Homo sapiens: one gene and its partners. The protein of the gene in region 2 interacts with the protein of the main gene of each other region in a pairwise test. Each region holds a gene or a part of one and is shown on either strand. Other genes may lie near its edges.

Region 1 (7,029 bases), on a different chromosome or scaffold from region 2:
AGAGTCAGGCCAGATGGTGCAGGTGACCGAGGACAGCCTCCAGCCTAGTAGAGAGGCCCTGGAGGAGACCCGCTGCCACCCTCCTGGCTGTGCGACCTCAGAGGAGCTGCTTGGCTTCTCTGAGCCTGTTTTCTCACCTGTGGGATGGGAATAAGCACGGTGCCTGCCTGGCGATGTTGGCTCAGGATTAAATGAAATAATGCAGGGGAAAGGTTGTGAATGATAAGCGGCCGCAGGTAATAGCATCTGTGACGATTACAGTTATTAAGCAAATGCGGGCAAGCTAGCTGTGGTGTACCCAGGGTTAAACTTGATATCATGGTGGACAGGCTGTGCACTGCACAATTCCATAGGCACTGTTGCTGGGTTTTAGCACGTGGTCGTGGAGGAGACGTGGACAACCTCCCTGCACTTGAGTCGCTGGCAGTCACATCACAGAGATAAGATGGAGTTAAGCTTCAGTACATGTATGGTTACATGAGCGTCGGACTGATGGGGCCAGGCAGGAGCAATGGAGCATAGAGCCGGACAGATGAGGTCTCCACCCTGGCCACTCACATACTTTGTGACAGGCCTCAAGTGAGAGTTGTCACAGTCAGAGCACAGATGCTGGGAGGTGAGGGAGGACTTCACAGAGGAGGCATCTGACCTGTCACGGGGTGGGATGGAGTGGCCAAGACCCAGCTCTGCAGTCAGGCTCAATTCTGCCTCTGCTTGAAAAGAAACATAGCATCCCTGAGCCCCAGCGCTTCTGAATTTGTTGAATGGGATTAATCTTGCCCCTCCACCCAGACCTGGGTCCCAGTAAACACCCAGCAGCCTGGCCTTGCCTAGACGGGTCTTGCAACACTGGGGCCGCCCTGATGGAGCGCTCCTGCATGGGAGGCAGGACCCCAGGCTTTGAGGGGAGAGCTGGCAAAAGGGAAGCATGCTCTACTGGGAGGCACCTGGGGTACCCTGAGCCTCTTAGTGGTTAAGAACACAGTGTTTTATTAGCTGGGCATGGGGGTGGGTGCCTGTAGTCCCAGCTACTCAGGAGGCTGAAGCAGGAGAATCCCTTGAACCTGGGAGGCAGAGGTTGCAGTGAGCTGAGATTGTGCTACTGCACTCCAGCCTGGGTAAAAGAGTGAGACTCTGTCTCAAAAAGAAAAAAAAAAAAGCAAGAACACAGTGTTTGATGCTAGCTGGGCATGAGTTCAGGCCGCAGCTCTGGGTCTCTTAAGCTGTTTGATCTTGGGCAAGTCACTTAATGTCTCCGAGCCTCAGTTTCTTCATCTATGAGGTGGGGTGACAACAGCAACCCCCAGTTGGTGAGGCTGCTGGGTAGATCAAATGAGGGGATGCACATGATGGGTCCAGCCCATGACCTGGTTCAGAGCGAGTGCCCGGCAAATCATAGCAGCCAATACTAGGAAGCACACACTGCTATTAAGAGTCATGACGGGCTGGGCGCGGTAGCTCACGCCTGTAATCCCAGCACTCTGAGAGGGTAAGGCGGACGGATCACTTGAGGTCAGGAGTTCAAGACCAGCCTGGCCAACATGGTGAAATCCCATCTCTACAAAAATAAATATTAAAAATTAGCTGGGTGTGGTGGCGGAAACCTGTAATCCCAGCCAGATACTGGGGAGGCTGAGGCAGGAGAATCACTTGAACCTGGGAGGCAGAGATTGCAGTGAGCCGAGATCACACCACTGCACTCCAGCCTGGGAGACAGAGCGAGACTCCGTCTCAAAAAAAAAAAAAAAAGATTCATGACTGAGCCAAGCCCAGAGCTGACCAGGGAGCTGACTCAAGCAGACACGCACATGCACCCATCGATCAGTGTTGGTAGGAACGCCTGATCGATATGGGAGGGGACCCATGTGGGTAACAGCTTAGAGAGAGCCGCCCCGCCATTTCTCAGGCACATACTGTGAGCCCAGCAAGGCCATGGATGTTACATCTCATTCTGACAGCGGGCCTGCCATGCAGGTGGAAGTGTCCTGTTTCACAGAGGGCTCACATTCACCTTGAGCTCACAGCTCACAAATGGCTGATGCTGGAAGTCCAGGGGGGCCTGGGGAAGCAAATGAGGCCTCCCCACTCGTACCTGGATCTGGCAGCAACTGTGCCTGGGGACTGCTCCAGGCCAAATGGTAGAGTCATTGGTGTTTGTGCTCACTGCCTCTACCCCCAGCAACCCCCTCTACCTCTCTTCTCTCTAGCTTTGCCCCTCCATCCCTTGCCCAGTTCTCTTGGAAGAAGGAATGAGACTGGATAAATTCGATTCAGGACAGAGCTGAGCTTACCTGGAGGAACAGCTGCTAATGGTAGCATTTCAGGCACTGTCGGGCGGATCATGTTGGGAAAGGGTATTTTGGGGGAGAGACTCAGCTCCGTCCACACCCTTTAAGCAATACCCTAAGGGTGTGGTTGGGGGAGGCCCTGGAAGTAGGGGACCTGGGGGAGAAGCTGCTTTAGAGAGCTTCCAAAGCTCCTCGTCTGGGGAAGAGAACCCTGGCTTCCCAGCGTGCAGCTGCTCTCTGCTCCCGGCAGGTCTGTGCCGGTGTTACCGGCACCACCTTGCATCCTCCCAGCCTGCCTGCCCCGGCCTGTCTTGGGAGCGAATGGGGAAACGGCCTCTGGTCTTTGTTCTCCCGGCTTCTGATGGGTTGCTGTGCTGCAGCCTCTGGAGCCCGGGAGGCCACCTGGTGCCCCTTTCTGCCTCCGGGTGGGACAAAGCTCTCTTCAGGTCCCAGCCCTGCCCTTCCCTACCCCAACCTATTTTTTTTAAGTGTTCTTTCTTTATTCTTTAGAGACAGGCTGTCACTGTATCACCCAGATTGGAGTGCAGTGGTGCGATCATAGCTCACTGTAGCCTTGAACTGCTGGGCTCAAGCAATCCTCATGCCTCAGCCTCCCAAGAAGCTGGGACTACAGGTGTGCACACCACCGTGCCCCGCTAATTTTTAATATTTGTAGAGATGGGGTCTCACTATATTGCCCACTCTGGTCCTGAACTCCTGGGCTCAAGTGAGCCTCTTGCCTTAGCCTCCCAAAGCACTGAGATTACAGCCATGAGCCACTGCACGCAGGCCCTTTCCCTTTAAATGGATCCCCACTTCTCCCTGCCTGCAGAGCCAGCAGCCCAGCAGGCCTCCAGTCCCTCTTCACTGTTCCTTCTTCCACTCCAGCGCTCCAGTCCCTTCTCCCCATGGCAGCCAGGGAGCTCCTTACGACATAAATCTGACCATACCTCCAGCTGCTTAACCCCTGCCCCAGACCTCTCTTTGCTCTTAGGCCCTGGGAGCTGGTGCCCTGCACATCAACATGTGCCTGTCACCGTCTTGTTTCCACGCTGTGCCCGGCCACAAGGCCTTTCCCTCTGCCATTCCTGTTGCCCAGAATGCCCCTCCCACCCCTTTTCACTGCTTCTCTTCCACTTCCAGGTTTACCTTCTGTTCCTCAGGGAAGCCTTCCCCAACCTCTCTGCTGGGGTAGATCCACCTATTCTATGGACTCCCCTTCTCCTTGGTAGCTCTTATCTCAGCAGCTATGTGACTCCGGGGTAGCCACATGTGGCTGTGTGGCTGCCTTCCCCCAGACACTGGTGCTACACGCGTGCTGAATGAATGAATGAATGAGAGTAAGCCATGGGGGACTGCTAAGATTCTCCCCTTCCCTCAGCATTTCAAGAGAGCATACATTGCCCTGCGCTTCACACCCCAGGACCAGCAGAGCCCGGAGGTGGGGATGAATGGGGCAGGGGTTCCAGCTAGTGGAAAGGAGTGCGAGGCCTGAGCAGGCTGCCCCCTGCCCTGTCCCCATCCAGTCACCTCCTGCGTGCAGGACGGTGAGCAGAGAGTTGGCTGAGTACACAGCTGGCAGCAATGCGGAGTGATAGTGAGATAAAGGAGGGCCCTGACCCAGCCACACAGGCTTCTTCAGGAGAGGTCCTCCACGCCGAACCCGGGGATCAGTTGGAGATGAGAGGATAAAGAGAGTGCAGTTGACAGAAGGTGACGGGGATGTGTGTATCCACGACCCGAAAAGGCATGACAGTGAGCAAGCAAAGCAAGTTGATGAAGGATGCAAAGATGATGCTTGCATATATACATTTTTAGAAACATACACAGAGCAATTCCACTTACTCTTCCTGAATGCAGATGTGTCTATGTATTGGAAAGCTTAGGGAACCAGGTGCAGTGGTTCGCACTTGTCCTAGCGCTTTGGGAGGCCAAGGCGGGAGGATGACTTGAGGCCAGGAGTTGAAGACGAGCCTGGGCAACATAGTGAGACCCTATTTCTACCAAAAAAAAAAAAAAATTAGCTGGGCATGGTGGTGCATGCCTCTAGTCTTAGCTACTCAGGAGGCTGAGAGGGGAGGATCCCTGAGTCCAGGAATTCAAGGCTGCAGTGAGCTGTGATTGTGCCACTGCACTCCAGCCTGGGCAACAGAGCAAGACCCTGTCTCTAAATAAATAAAATAAAACAGGCTTAGGAAGAACCAGTAAATCTAAAATTCTGCTACTCCTAAGAAGGGGCCTGAAAGGATAATGAACAATAACATTTCTCTTCCTTTTTAGAAAAATCTGCAGCAAAGATGGTACTGTGAAAACATCAACCAAACCGTGGTGGTGGGGACATGCGTGGCTGATTCTTTTCAGTACTTTTCTGCATGTCTGAGTAGATCACGAGTTTTCCAGTTTAGGTGAAGGGTGGAGTAGAGAAGGCGAGCTGGCGTGGGGCACAGCTGGCGGGGGGCACAGCGTGGGAAGAGCCTGCAGGCAAGCCCTGAGTCCTGGGTCTCAGAGTCCAGTCCATAGCAAAATAAAAGGTCTGGGAGAGGAAGAAGAGGGACCTCAGGAAGCAAAGGGGGCCCAGTCCTGGAAGGCAAGCAGGCAGGTTCTGGATGGGGAGACAAAAATGGAGAGTCTCTGCAAGGAAGTGAGAGGGGAGGGGACCAGAACTGGGAAAGGTATGAACACAGAAAGGCCTTGAGGTTGGGTGCTAGCTTAAAACCATCACCCTAAATTATGATTATTACATTGTCTGAGATAAATTCTACCCTCAGCTCTCGTTCCAAGTGAGGCTCAGAGAGTTTGAGTGACTCGCTCCAGGACTCTCGGCAGATCTTTTTTTTTTTTTTTTTTTTTTTTTTTTTTAAGGTAGAGTTTCACTTTTGTTGCCCAGGCTGGAGTGAAGTGACACAATCTCAGCTCACTGCAACCTCTCTGCCTCCTGGGTTCAAGTGATTCTCCTGCCTCAGCCTCCCAAGTAGCTGGGATTACAGGCGCCCACCACCACGCCTGGCTATATTTTGTATTTTTAGTAGAGACGGGGTTTCACCATGTTGGCCAGGCTGGTCGCAAACACCTGACCTCAGGTGATCCACCTGCCTCGGCTTCCTAAAGTGCTGGGATTACAGGCATGAGCCACTGCTCCCAGCCAAATAGAGTTTCTTATCTGAGATTGAAGCAGGGTTGAAGCCCTGTCTCTTCTTTGTGGTACAAACTTGGAATCCTTTCCCACCCTTCGATGGGAAACAAACCATCGCCATGGCGAAGGCAGAGAATTTGAAACCCTAAAAGGTATCAGCCTGAAATCCTAGCCCAGGCAGTGGGGGCAGCAAAAAATTCTGCAAGTTCTATTTCTCCCACAGCCCTGCGGCCTTGCAGGCTCAGCCAGCAGCTCTGGTGTGTTTTATCTTACAAAGCATGACAAAAACCCTCTGCCTAGGAAAGGATGGGCGGGGCGGCCAGGACACCCTGCCAGCCCTCTCAAAGTGTCTGGGTAAGAACTGCTGAGATGGCCGGGCACAGTGGCCCATGCCTGTAATCCCAACACTCTGGGAGGCCTAAGGTCAGGTGTTGGAGACCAGCCTGGCCAACATGGTGAAACCCTGTCCCTACTAAAAATACAAAATATATTTTGTGTTTGAGCCCAAGAGTTGAAGGCTGCAGTGAGTGAAGTGCAGCAATGCACTTCAGCCTGAATAACAGAGCAAGACTCTGTCTCAAAAAATGAAAAAGGAGGCTGGTGCTCTTTCTCCAGTGGTCCTGAACCCAGAGTGACATCCTGATGCCTTGGGGCACCAAAGTTGGCTTGAGCCCTGTTTATCCCCCGAGTCTAGGAATTCAAAGCTGCAGTGAGCTATGAATCCTCCCACCTCAGCCTCCTGAGCAGCCAGGACTAGAGGCATGCACAACCATGCCCAGCTAATTTTATTTATTTATTTATTTTTGGTAGAAATAGGGTCTTGCTGTGTTGCCCTGTCTTCAAGACCTGCCTTGGTGTTACCTGAAGCAGCTTGAACTTCTGTATGTTTGTAAAAGGAGCCCAAAAGCACTCACCTGACACAGAACCCTAGGCCCCATCAGAGGCCTGGAGGCAGGGCGGCCTTCCCTGGGCAGAAACAGATTAGGCCTTAAAAACAGACCTGGAATTACTACACCAGCAACCTTCTCATCTTAGGATATATTTCCACAGGATTAATAGCTGGGTGTGAGGACATTTACTGTCTAATTAGCACAGGAGTTTCTAGTAGTGAGAGAATCAGTCAATTGACCAATCAATCTGGTATTCATTGGGCACATTCTGTGTACTGCTTTCTCACAGGGCTTCCTTCCTATAGAGATCTAGGATTCTTCGGCATCTTGCTTCTTTTAAACCTTGCTGTGGTTCAGTTCCTTGTTCTCATCCCTGGCTGTACATTAGAATCACCTGAGGAGTTTTGAACAGCATGTCAGAGCCCTTTCCAAGACCAGTTAAGTCAAAATCTCCATGGACATGGGTCCAGACATCATTCTTTTGATGTGCAGCTGTTGGGAACCACATAGTTACATGGATTGCCTCGCTCCCTCTTGTCTTTGAGATATATGGACAGTGCTTTCTCTCTTCAGTATCAGTTGCCTGGTATGTCACTCTCCATTCTTTATTCTCAACCTTCCTGTATCATTTAGTTTCAAGTGTGTGTGTCTTATAAAATGGCATATAGCTTGGGGAAGGTGTGTGTTTTGTAATCTCACCGGAGAGTCTTTTATCTTT
Region 2 (5,887 bases):
AGGCAGATGCGGGAATTGGAGGACCGATTTGCCAGTGAGGCCAGTGGCTACCAGGACAACATTGCGCGCCTGGAGGAGGAAATCCGGCACCTCAAGGATGAGATGGCCCGCCATCTGCGCGAGTACCAGGACCTGCTCAACGTGAAGATGGCCCTGGATGTGGAGATTGCCACCTACCGGAAGCTGCTGGAGGGAGAGGAGAGCCGGTGAGGGGCCAGGCAGGAGCCCGAGTGGGAGGTGCGGGGTGCTGGGTGGTCCATTTCTGTCCCCAGGAGGCTCGAGATTACTGATTACCTCAACAAGACCTGGAAACAATTTTTTTTTTTTTTGAGATGGAGTTTCGCTCTTGTCGCCCAGTCTGGAGTGCAATGGCACCATCTTGGCTCACTGCAACCTCCGCCTCCTGGGTTCAAGCAATTCTCCTGCCTCAGCTTCCCGAGCAGCTGGGATTACAGGCGCCTACCACCACGCCTGGCTAATTTTTGTATTTTTAGTAGAGACGGGGTTTCACTATGTTGGGCAGCTGGTCTCGAACTCCTGACCTCAGGTGATCTGCCTACCTCAGCCTCCCAAAGTACTGGGATTACAGGCGTGAGCCACCGCACCCGGCGTGGAAACAATTTTATACAAGAGGCCACTGCTCTATTAATTGCAGAGAATTAACCAAGGCCACCTGGGTAAAAAGCAATTTAATTAACAGCATTTATAAAAAGAGAAATATAAGTATTCCCTTATCCACCTTCAGAATTAAGAACCAGCAGCAAAAAAAACCATATTCAGCAACCAATAATAAAATATTACTGCCAGTCAAGGGAGAGATGAAAGCAGAATGGGGAGTGATGAGGAGGGAAACGGAGGGAGCAGATAGAGGCAAATAGAGAGAGGGAGGGAGAGAAGCCTTGCACAGGGATAGGCTAAGAGAAGGTAAAGAGATGCATACAGAAGGCATGAGTTTGCACACACATGCACACATGTCAGCATATGCACATGTTCGGAGGAAAAGACACAGACGTCATGCTCAGAGCAACCCACCTCTAGACACAGAAAACAACATACAACTGGAAAGGGACACCAGGGAACCTTGTGGGATAACAGAAATGTTCTATATCTTTTTTTTTTTTTTTTTTTGAGACAGAGTCTTGCTCTGTCACCCAGGCTGGAGTGCAGTGGTGTGATCTCAGCTCACTGCAACCTCTGCCTCCCAGGCTCAAGCGGTTCTCCTGTCTCAGCCTCCCTAGTAGCTGGGATTACAGGCGTGTGCCAACACACTCAGCTGATTTTTTGTATTTTTAGTAGAGATGAGGTTTCACCATGTTGGTCAGGCTGGACTCTAACTCCTGACCTCAAGTAATTCGCCTGCCTCAGCCTCCCAAAGTGCTGGGATTATAGGCATGAGCCACTGTGCCTGGCCTAGAAATGTTCTATATCTTGATTTGGACTGGTAGTTACACAGACGTGGACATTGATCAAAACTCATTGAATTGTACATTAAAGATCTGTGCATTTCACTGTATGTAAATTTAACCTCAATTTAAAACAGATCAGTTACTCCAAAAACTGGTACCCCTTGATACTCATAAAAATAATATCTGAAATTTTTAAAAAGGAGCAGACATGTTTAGATACAGGTACAAACATAAAGAGAAACTTCAGATTTTGTAAAATCACGTCTACATATGATGGCCTTTGAAGGTAGCTAAAGGCATGTTGCATTTTCCCAGCATTAGGCCTAAATAGTAAGCTCTCAGAACTGGCCTGGCTGGAGGGTGGGCATGAGCAATGGATATCACCCACAGCTGCTACTAGTACCAACTTCAGTGCCAGGAGCAAGAAGGAAATCCTGGTGCTCTGGAGGGCGCGGTGGGGTTGCACATCCTAGTGTCGTGCCAGCAGTTCACAGTTGAAATAATGATCCTTCCAGAAGAGACTATTCCTGGGACAGCTCTAGCTGGCCTTCGACCCCATTCCTTGAGCAGTATGGGTGGTGGGAGTGCTGGGGTCCGTGGGACTGGGACAGCTGAGGATGGTGTTTAGAAAGGACCAGGGTGAGCCTTGATGGGCGGTCTCAGGGAAAGATGGGAGGGTTCTTTTTTTTTTTTTTTTGAGACAGGGTCTTGTTCTGTCCCCCAGGCTGGAGTGCAGTGGTGCAATCTCCGCTCACTGCAAGCTCCACCTCCTGGGTTCGCACCATTCTCCTGCCTCACCCTCCTGAGTATCTGGAACTACAGGTGCCCGCCACCATGCCCGGCTAATTTTTTGTATTTTTAGTAGAGACGGGGTTTCACTGTGTTAGCCAGGATGGTCTCGATCTCCTGACCTGGTGATCCGCCCGCCTCGGCCTTTCAAAGTGCTGGGATTACAGCTGGGCCCGGCCGATGGGAGGGTTCTTAACTCTTAGGAGGTTTTGTCTCTTCCCTTTTAGGATCAATCTCCCCATCCAGACCTACTCTGCCCTCAACTTCCGAGGTGAGTGTCTGCTGGCAGGCGGAGGCTGGAGTTGCAGGGGCCAGGAGTCCAGCATGGGCACTGCCCAAGGCCAGCCAGGAGGGAGGATGGGACCCTGGGGCTAGGGACAGACCTGGAGTCTGGGGAAGAAAAAGGGGACCACTGCGGGTAGGTGGGGGAGTTTAGGTAGAGGTGGATGAGGCAACTTATGACAGAGAGAGCTTTTTATGTGATTATATTGTATTGTATTTACCATGTCCCCTGCACCTTCTTGGAGTATTGGGCCTCAGGAAGCAGCCTCTGTTCTGAATCCCAAACTCTGAAAGCAGGAGTGTCCTTGGGGACCTGGCTTCAGGAGCATCTCATACCACCTGCCCTCTAAGACACCCACAGCCCATTGTCTGTTTGGCACATTGCCAAGCCCCACCTTGGCTGCTTGTCGAACACCTCCAGTTTGCTGGAGCAAGATGTTGGATGCACGTTTGGAAAAAAATGCCAAATCTTAGCAAAGCCAAACAATGAAAAGAACGAGCTCTTAGGGCACTCTGCCATTTTGACATTAGTAATACGCAGATCGGGTGGCTTTCCAACCCCAGAGAGCAGAGAAACACACGATAATGATGCATTAGGAAAGCAAGTCGGAGTCCTTGGCAGCTTCTCCTTTCCTAGATCAAACCTTTTCTATCTTCGATGTACATTTCCATCAGGAAAAAAAACACGCTGCGCTCCAGCGAGTCACAACATTCATCACAGGCTGGTTGCTAGCTAAGGAAATTCGTAAGCACCAAACTCATAATACCAAGGACCTCCATTTGACCTTTCCTACACAACTCAGAGCCTCTCTTTTCAGTTAGTTGTTTATACAGACACCAAGTATGAGTCTTGCATTTAAAACTTCATAGTACAAAAAACTCCACCCACATTGCACAGTGCTTTTCCAAATCAATAGCTTTGTGGCCATGATAAGGTTGGTACCACTTCACTCCGTGTCCTCAGTGAGGAAACTGAGGCACAGAATGGCAAGTGACTGAGCATCAGCACAATGAGTCAGTGCCTTATTCCTGCTCTGTCTCACTTTAAGACATCAAGTTGCTCATCTGAATTTTTTTTTTCTTTTGAAACGGAGTCTCGCTCTGTCGCCCAGGCTGGAGTGCAGTGGTGCAATCTCGGCTCACCGCAACCTCCGCCTCCCAGGTTCAAGCAATTCTCCTGCCTCAGCCTCCTGAGTAGCTGGGATTACAGGCATGTGCCACCACGCCCCCCTAATTTTTGTATTTTTAGTAGAGACGGGGTTTCACCATGTTGGTCAGGGTGGTCTGGAACTCCTGGCCTCATGATCCACCTGCCTCGGTCTCCCAAACTACTGGGATTACAGATGTGAGCCACCGCACCTGGCCCTGAAATCTTAAAGGGAGATAGGTACTGTAAGGTCCTCTAAAGAGTGTCTTGAGACTGGGCTTTGGGGTTCTATCTTGAAGAAGGGGAGTCCCAGGAGACAAATGTGTGCAGGGCTCTCCTGGGGCCTGGGGGTGGAGAGGAACTAGGAGGGATGGGGAATGTCAGTGCTGTGCAGCCTGGGCCTCAGGTGTCCCCTACCCTCCTGCACCATCCTGCACATGGAGCAAATCTGTTGGCTCCTGAGACCATCTAAACTATGGGACAGGCGCTGGGGACTGCAGAACCACCTGCTGGGTGCTGGGCTGAAGGAAAGGTGTTAAAGTCTTGAAGAAGTAACAAGCCTGTCTTGAGGGGGGTTGGGGTCTGCTAGGGCTCTGCCCAATGTGGCCCCAGATGGACTCCCAGCCCCTGGTATAGCCCAGCCTGGACTTGGTCAGGCTGAGTGTGCGATGGACCCTGTTACAGAAACCAGCCCTGAGCAAAGGGGTTCTGAGGTCCATACCAAGAAGACGGTGATGATCAAGACCATCGAGACACGGGATGGGGAGGTAAGTGGTCTGTCTGGGCTCCTTACCCTTGGTGGGGGCTATGGATGTGTCTGGGGGGACTGTCTTCCACCCAGCTGTGCTGGTCTAGGTCCCTGGCTAGTGGGGCAAGAGAGATCCTGCGGCCCTGGGGTGGGGATGGCTCAGGGCTGAGGCTCCATTCTCTGGCTAGCACATGGTTGGACTGGGCTTCTCTTCCTCCCCAGGTCGTCAGTGAGGCCACACAGCAGCAGCATGAAGTGCTCTAAAGACAGAGACCCTCTGCCACCAGAGACCGTCCTCACCCCTGTCCTCACTGCTCCCTGAAGCCAGCCTTCTTCCATCCCAGGACACCACACCCAGCCTCAGTCCTCCCCTCACAGCCTCTGACCCCTCCTCACTGGCCATCCCTCGTGGTCCCCAACAGCGACATAGCCCATCCCTGCCTGGTCACAGGGCATGCCCCGGCCACCTCTGCGGACCCCAGCTGTGAGCCTTGGCTGTTGGCAGTGAGTGAGCCTGGCTCTTGTGCTGGATGGAGCCCAGGCGGGAGCGGTGGCCCTGTCCCTCCCACCTCTGTGACCTCAGGCACTAGCCTTTGGCTCTGGAGACAGCCCCAGAGCAGGGTGTTGGGATACTGCAGGGCCAGGACTGAGCCCCGCAGACCTCCCCAGCCCCTAGCCCAGGAGAGAGAAAGCCAGGCAGGTAGCCAGGGGGACTAGCCCCTGTGGAGACTGGGGGGCTTGAAATTGTCCCCGTGGTCTCTTACTTTCCTTTCCCCAGCCCAGGGTGGACTTAGAAAGCAGGGGCTACAAGAGGGAATCCCCGAAGGTGCTGGAGGTGGGAGCAGGAGATTGAGAAGGAGAGAAAGTGGGTGAGATGCTGGAGAAGAGAGGAGAGGAGAGAGGCAGAGAGCGGTCTCAGGCTGGTGGGAGGGGCGCCCACCTCCCCACGCCCTCCCCTCCCCTGCTGCAGGGGCTCTGGAGAGAAACAATAAAGAGATTCACACACAAGCCAAGCTGGCCCCTGTTGTCTTGACTGCCAGGTCTCCTGTGGGGCCCCTGGGGCCCTGTGATACAACCTGTCACCCTGAGATGGACTATACTGACCTTCTACCCAGCCAGACTTTCCCCAGGGCCTCGCGCCCACTTCTGTTCCCAGAGCCACCTGGCCTTGATGTCTGTATGCAGTGTATGGGGCAGGGAGGGCTGGACAGGGCTTTTGTTGGGGAACCACAAATACCTCTCGTTAGGCCCCAGTTCCAGGACTGCACCCCTTGTGCTCTCTACTACACCTTCAGGTCAGCCAGGCTGGGGGACACCACCTGCTATTCCTTTTGAAGGATGTAGCTGCTCCCCACTGACTGGCTCTGAAGTAGGGCTCCCCCAGTCCCTTCTTCAAAGATGCCAACAGCCCCTTTTTTTTCTCTCTCTCTTTTTTTCTTTTTGAGATGGAGTCTTGCTGTGTCACCCAGGCTGGAGTGCAGCAGTGTGATCACGGCTTACTGCAGCCTGGACTTC
Region 3 (7,029 bases), on a different chromosome or scaffold from region 2:
CTACACTGCTATGAGATCAACTTTTTTATCTTCTGCATGTGAATGTGACCGTGCAGTATTTGTCTTTGTGTGACTGGCTTATCTCACTTACATATCATTCTCCAGGTTCATCCAGGTTATTTCAAACGGCAATATTCTGTTCTGTTTTATGGCTGAATAGCATTCCCTTGTGTATTTATACCACATTTCCTTTATACACTCATCCGTAGATGGACACTTAGATTGCTTTCATTTCATAGCTATTGTGAATAGGGCTGCAACAAACATGGAAGTGCTGACATCTCTTTGACACACTGATGACACTCTCTTTGGATACATGCTCAGTAGTGGGATTCATGGATAGTGTGATAGTTCCATTGTTAAAATATTGGGGAATGTCCATACTGTTTTCCATGGTGGCTGTAACAATTTACATCCCACCAACCGTGCATAAAGCTTCCAATTTCTCCACATCCTTGCCAACACTTGTTATATCTTGTCTTTTTAATGTTAGCCATTCTAACATGCGTGACTCGGTATCTCTGTGGTTCCGATATGCATTACCCTGATGATTAGAGAAGGTGAGTGTTTTTTCACATGCCTGTTAGCCATTTGTATGTCTCCTTTTGAGAAATGTCTATTCAGGTCTTTTGCTCATTTTTAATAGGATTATTTGTTTTCTTGCTATTGTGTTGTTGGAGTTACATTTTGGAAACTGACCCCTTACTAGATACATAGATTGTCAATGTTTTCTCCTATCGCATAGATTGTCTCTCCACTCTTTGATTGTTTCCTCTGTGGTGCAGAAGCTTTTTAGTTCAATGTAATCCCATTTGTGTATTTTTCCTTTTCTTGCCTTTGCTTTTGAGGTCCTGTTTTTAAAATATCGTTGCCCAGAACAATGTCATGGAGCTTTCCCCCTATGTCTCCTTCTAGTAGTTTCACAGCTTTGGGTCTTCATTTTAAAGCTTTAAATCATTTTGAGTTGATTTATATACACGCTGAGAGATAAGGGTGGAAATTCATTTTTCTCAGATGAATATCCAGTTATTTTCAACATCATTTATTGAAGAGACTGTACTTTCTCAACATTGTGTGTTCTCGGGCCTTTTGTCAAAAATTAGTTGACTGTAAATGCACAGATTTAATTCCGGGCTCTGTATTCTGCTCCATTGGTTGATGTGTCCGTTTTTATACTGGTACTGTGCTGTTATGCTTACTATAGCTTTGTCATATGTTTTGACATCATAGTGTGATGCCTCCAGCTTTGTTCCTTGTATTCCAGACTGCTTCAGCTGTCTGGAATCTTTCATGGTTCCATACAAATTTTAGGAGTATTTCTTCTATTTCCAAGAAGAATGTCATTGGTATTTTCATAGCAGTTGCATTGAATCTATAGATTGCTTTAGGTTACGGACATTTTAACAATATTTTATTCTTCCTGTTCATGAACACATGATATATTTCCATTCATTCCTGCCTCCTTCAATTTGCTTCGTCAATGGTTTATAGTTTTCAGTGTTGCAATCCTTCACCTCCTTGGTTAAATTTATTCCTATTTTAATTTTTTTGAAGGTGTTGTAAATGGGATTGTTTCTTGATATCTTTTCCAGATAGTTCCCTATTGGTGTATAGAGATACTACTGATTCTTGTATGTTGGTTGTGTCTCATGCCACTTTCCTGAATTTGTTTATTAGACCTAGTAGCTGTTTGGTGGTGTCTTCAGGGTTATTTATAAGTAACAGCTTCCCGTCTGCAAACAGGGCCAATCTAAATTCTTCCTTTTGAATTTAGATGCCTTTTGTTTCTTCTTGCCTAATTTCTCTGGTTAGCACTTCCAGAACTATGTGCGATAGAAAGGGCAAAAGTGGGCATTTCTGTCCTGTTCCAGGTCTTAGAGGAAAAGCCTGCAACACTTCCCCATTCAGTATGATGTTATCTGTGGGTTTATCATATATGACCTTTATTGTGTTGAGGTGCACTCCTCTTATACCTAATTTGTGGAGTTTTTAGTCACGAAGAGGTGTGGAATTCAATCAAATGCTTTTCCTGCTGAAATTGGAATGAACCTATGGCTTTTTTCCTTCATTCTTTTCACGTGATATAGCACATTTATTGATTTGTGTATGTTGAAACTTCCCTGCATCCCAGGGATGAAGTCCTCTAGAACATGGTGAATGATTTTTTTAATGTGCTGTGGAAATTGCTTTACTAATACTTTGTTAAAGATTTTGCAACTGTGTTGATCAGGAATTTTGGCATGTAGTTTTTTTTGGTTTTCTCTTCTTTCTGTTTCCTCATCTGGGTTTTCTACCAGGGTAATGCGTTGTGACAGAATGAGTTCGGAAGTGTTCGTCTCTTGTCCGTTTTTTTTTTTTTTTTTTTTTTTTTTTTGGAATAGGTTTAAAAGTATAGCTATTAATTATTCTTCTTTATATATAAATTTGGTAGTATTAGGAAGGGAAGTCATTCTGTCTTGGACTCTTCACTGATGGGGGATTTTTTATTACTGAATCACTTTCCTTACTCATTAATGGTCTGTTCAGATTTTCCATTTCTTCACCATTACATCTCGGTAGGTTGTATGTGTCCAGGAATGTAGCCATTTCTTCTAGCTTGTCCTATTTGTAGGCAGATGATTGTTCATAATCTTCCTTATGATACGTTTTGTTTTGGTGATGTCATTTGTGCTGTGTCCTTTTTCATCTTTGATTTTAGTTATTTGAATCTTCTCTCTTTTTTCCTTAGTCTAGCTAAAGTTTTGTTGATTTGCTTTACCTCTTCAAGAAACCAAGTCATTGTTTCATTGATATTTGTATTGTTCTTCTCATTTCTATTCATTTATTTCTGCTCTGACCTTTATGATTTCTGTCCTAATTTTGCATTGCATTTTTTTCTTGTTTTTCTAGTTCCCCAAGGTGCAGTGTGAGGTTGTTTATTTAAGATGTATCTTTTCTTTTGAGGTAGGTTTTATTGATGTAAACTTCACTTTTAGAATTGCTTTTGCTGTATTTCATGGGTTTTCGTATGTTGTGCCTTCATTTTGCTTCAACTCAAGAAATGTTTACACTTTGCTTCTAATTTCTTCATTGACCCATTGGTTATTTAGGAGCATGTTGTTTAATTTCCATCCACTTCTAAAGTTTCCAAAGTTCCTACTTTTATTGATTTCTAATACTTTACCGTTGTGGTTAGAGAACTGATTTGATGTTATTTCAAATTCCCTTAATTTGCTAGTACCTGTTTTATGACCTGCCCCATAATCTATCCTCGAGAATGTTCCACATGCAGTTGGAAAGAATATGTGTTTTGGAGTATTTGGATGGAATGTTCTGTAAATGACTGTCAGGTCCATTTGGTCCGGAGTGCAGATAAATCCCACTTTTTGTGGGGTCAATGTTCTGTCGGGACAATCTGTTCATTGCTGCAAGTTGGGTGTTGAAGTCCCCTACTATTACTGCATTGCACTCTATCTCACCATTTATACCTTAATGTCTGCTTCATATATTTAGGTGCTGCTATGTTGGGTGCATATTTTTGGAAATCATTATATCCTCTTGATGAATTGACCCCTTCATCATTCTATAATGATCTTGGTCTCTTTTTACAGTTTGTGATTTAAACTCTATTTTATTTGAAATCAGTTTAGCAGCTCCTGCTCTCTTTTGGTTTCCCTTTACATGGAAGAATATCTTTTTTCATGTCTTCACTTTCAGTTTACGAATGCCCTTTAAGGAGAAGTGGGTCTCTCATAGGTTTGATTGTTTTTGTTGTTGCTTTTTAAATGTATTCAGCTACTCTGTGCATTTTAATTGGGGGATGTCATCCATTCCTATCAAGGTAATTATTGATAGGTAAGGATTTATTGTTGTCATTTAGATAATTTTTTTCTATCTATTTTGTAGGTAATTTCTTCCTTTCTTTCTCTTTTACTGTTTTCATTGATGGATAAGAGATTTTTCTCTATTAGTGTGTTTTGTGGTTTTGTTTGTATTTGTTTTAGTGTGTCTATTACAGGATGTTTTTCTTTGTGGATAGCATGAGGCTTACGGAAACATAATCACGGCAGATTATTTTACTGATAACATAACTTTGATCACAAAATACAAACACTTTACTATTTAACTCCACCCTGGGATTTTGAGTTTTCTATTTCACACTTTACAATTTTTTATATTTTGTATCCCTTAACAAATTATTGTACTTATTTTATTTTTACTAGTTCAGTTCTTTAACCTTTACATGAAAGATATAAGTGATCTGGAAACCACCATTACCTTATTAGAGTATTCTGAATTTGTGTCGTTACCTTTACTGGTGAGTTTTATACCTTCAGATGTTTTTGCATTACTCATTAGCGTCCCTTACGTCAGTTGGAAGAACTCTCCCTAGCATTTCTTGTAAGACAGTTGCGGTGGTGAGGAAATTTCTCAGCTGTGATTTCTCTGTAAAAGTCTTTATCTCCCCTTCACTGCTGGGTACATTATTCTTGCTTAGAGATTTTTTTCCTTGTGTTCCTAAAGTATACTATACTACTCTCTCCTGGCCTATTATGCTTCTGCTGAGAAGTCTTCTGGTAGGCATATTGGAACTGCCTTATATGTGATTTGCTTCTTTCCTCTTACTGCTCTCAGGATTCTTTCTTTATTTTTCATCTTTGACAGTTTGATTTTAATATGTCATGGGGTAATCTTATTTGGATTGTATCTGAATGCAGAACTTTGGTCTTCCAGTACCTAGACGTTTGTAACTTTCTCTGGGTTTGGATGGCTCTCCATTATTATTTTTTAAATGATCTTTTTACCTCTTTTTCACTCCTCCCTCTTGAATGTGAATGACTCATACTATTGCTCTTCTGATATTGTCCCAGAAATCTAGTTTTTTTTCATTCCGTGTCCTTCCTTTTAATTTTGTCTCCTCTGACTGTATATTTTCAATGAACCTGTCTCCAAGTTTACAGATTCTTTCTTTTGCTCAATCAATTCTTCTTTGGATGTTCTCTATCGTGTACTTCCTTCACTGTATTTTTCAACTTCTGGATTTGCTTGGTTTTTAACAATTCTTTCAATCTTTCCTGCAACTTACTTTGATAAATCCTGAATCATTTCTCTGTAATTGTTTTCAAGGTTCACAGAGCATGTGGAAAATAGATATTTTGAATTATTTGTTAAACAACTCATATATTCCTGTCTCTCTAGGGTCAATTGCTGGCACCTTGTTTTGTCAGTTTGGTGATGTCATGTTTTCCTTATTGTGTTTGATCTTTGTGGTAATGTGTTTATATCTGCGTATTGAAGAAGTAGGTATCCATTTCGGTCTTTGCAGTCTAGCTTTTAGGGGACATCCTTTAGCAGTAAGCCTGTCCAGAAACTCTATATAGGTCTCTTTTGGTCCTTATGCTTGTGAACACTACAGCTATTGAAGCACTAGGGGGATGCCTATTCACAGGGACACAGCGGCAGGTGCTAGGATGGCTGGGATTCCCCTAGCTATTGAGGCTGGTCCCTTGTGAGACTGGAATCCAAGCCTCCATTCACTGAGAACTCCCTGTTGCTGTAGATTATTCTGAGCATAAGGCCACTGGAATCACTAGGGAGAGATGTGGGCCAGATATTGAGTTTGTTTTGCTGTGGCTGTGGCTTCCTGTCTGGTGCCAGGGTGGGTCTAGAGACTCTGTCCACAAGTACCATCTGAGAGTCAGGGGCCATGGGCATCTGTCAAGTGGTGGCCTGATATTGGGTTCCTAGGCAATGTCCTATGCTTGCTACTGTCTCTCTCCTCTGGATGGATGGTATCTCTATTTATGCTTTGCTGTTGAAGGTCGGGGAAGGGGTGATGTGGGTAATGTAAAACTGTCCTTACTACCCTCTTCAGTGCATGTTTTCTTATTTTCATGCTATAACCGGGTACCATGGTCTCTCACCTGGTTTCTTTATGTCAAGTGACGATATTTTCATACAAGGATAGTTTTTCACATTGATGTTTCTGCAGGAGGACAATCACTGGAGAGTCCCATTTCTCCATCTTGCTCCCCTCCTCCTCTATCTGCTTAATTTTTACATACTATAAATATGTCCATCTTGTCCATGTGGCTTCTGGGTTCAGGAAGTATCCTTAGGCTAATTCTAAGACATAATTTACACAAGTATTCACTTAGCTTTTCTTCTGAAAGTCATTCATTTATTTATATCTAAACATACAGCCAGCCTGGGTTTGCTTTTCATGTGCAGGACTGAGAGAAGGATCCACATCTTGTTTCACTACTGGCTACTCAGTTGTCCCTCAACATTAATTGTATAATCCACATTGCCCCTTTTTATTGAAATGCCACTTGTGTCATACAACACATTATCGTAAACATTTGAATCTATTTGTACCGGCTGTTGTGTTGGTCGTCTTTGCAAGGCATAAGAAACAGAGCTGGGAGCCATGAGACATGGGCAAAGCTTTAGTCTGCATATGTCTGTGAGTTGGCGTGGAGTCAAGGAACAGAGAGGTCCGAGGGTGCTGTGGATCATCCACTGGGATACTGACGGAAGTGGTGATAGATATGTGGATGGGAGGCTAATGCCTCATTCCTTCATGACAGTAAGTGAGGGGATAATAAACATCAGATTGGTATTGACAGCTGGAAAGACACCAGTTTAGAAATGAGAATAGCAGCAAACTAGGCTATTTTTAAAACCATGAAAAATTCTTTACAACTCAGTGGCTCAAGTTTCCATCAGAAGTCTCTGCTCAGCAAATGCCAACCCTAGGATTTTATCCTATAGTTAAGTCAGGCAAGTAGTCCAAATGCTATGACACAAGTGAAATGTCTAATTATGTGAAATTGGGTTAGTAAATTACGGCACATCCATTAATTGGGATTCCCTATGACTCTTTCCGTCCTCTCTTGTTATTTAAAAACTTTTGTGTTCATTTAATGTGATACTTTAACACTGAATACCATGCTAATTTGCTTTTAAAACAGGCATTTACACATGTATATATATTTGTGCACAGACAAAAACATCAGGATGAGTGTTACTGCCAAAAATGTAGTCCCT

The links.
Region 1: the proteins of DES (region 2) and PPL interact in binary tests that used the Homo sapiens proteins (3 or more experiments, as listed by UniProt).
Region 3: the proteins of DES (region 2) and CT55 interact in binary tests that used the Homo sapiens proteins (3 or more experiments, as listed by UniProt).

The regions. Positions count from the first base shown.
Region 1 is NC_000016.10:4,927,132-4,934,160, reverse strand, and holds part of PPL (periplakin), read left to right. Parts: intron 1-7,029. UniProt on the Homo sapiens protein: Component of the cornified envelope of keratinocytes. May link the cornified envelope to desmosomes and intermediate filaments. May act as a localization signal in PKB/AKT-mediated signaling.
Region 2 is NC_000002.12:219,421,355-219,427,241, forward strand, and holds the end of DES (desmin), read left to right. Parts: coding exon 1-206; intron 207-2,422; coding exon 2,423-2,466; intron 2,467-4,308; coding exon 4,309-4,391; intron 4,392-4,594; coding exon 4,595-4,636; 3' UTR 4,637-5,198; coding exon of another isoform or gene 5,199-5,225; 3' UTR 5,226-5,380; downstream 5,381-5,887. UniProt on the Homo sapiens protein: Muscle-specific type III intermediate filament essential for proper muscular structure and function.
Region 3 is NC_000023.11:135,161,382-135,168,410, reverse strand, and holds part of CT55 (cancer/testis antigen 55), read left to right. Parts: intron 1-7,029. UniProt on the Homo sapiens protein: Plays a role in spermatogenesis, possibly acting in the regulation of the autophagy pathway.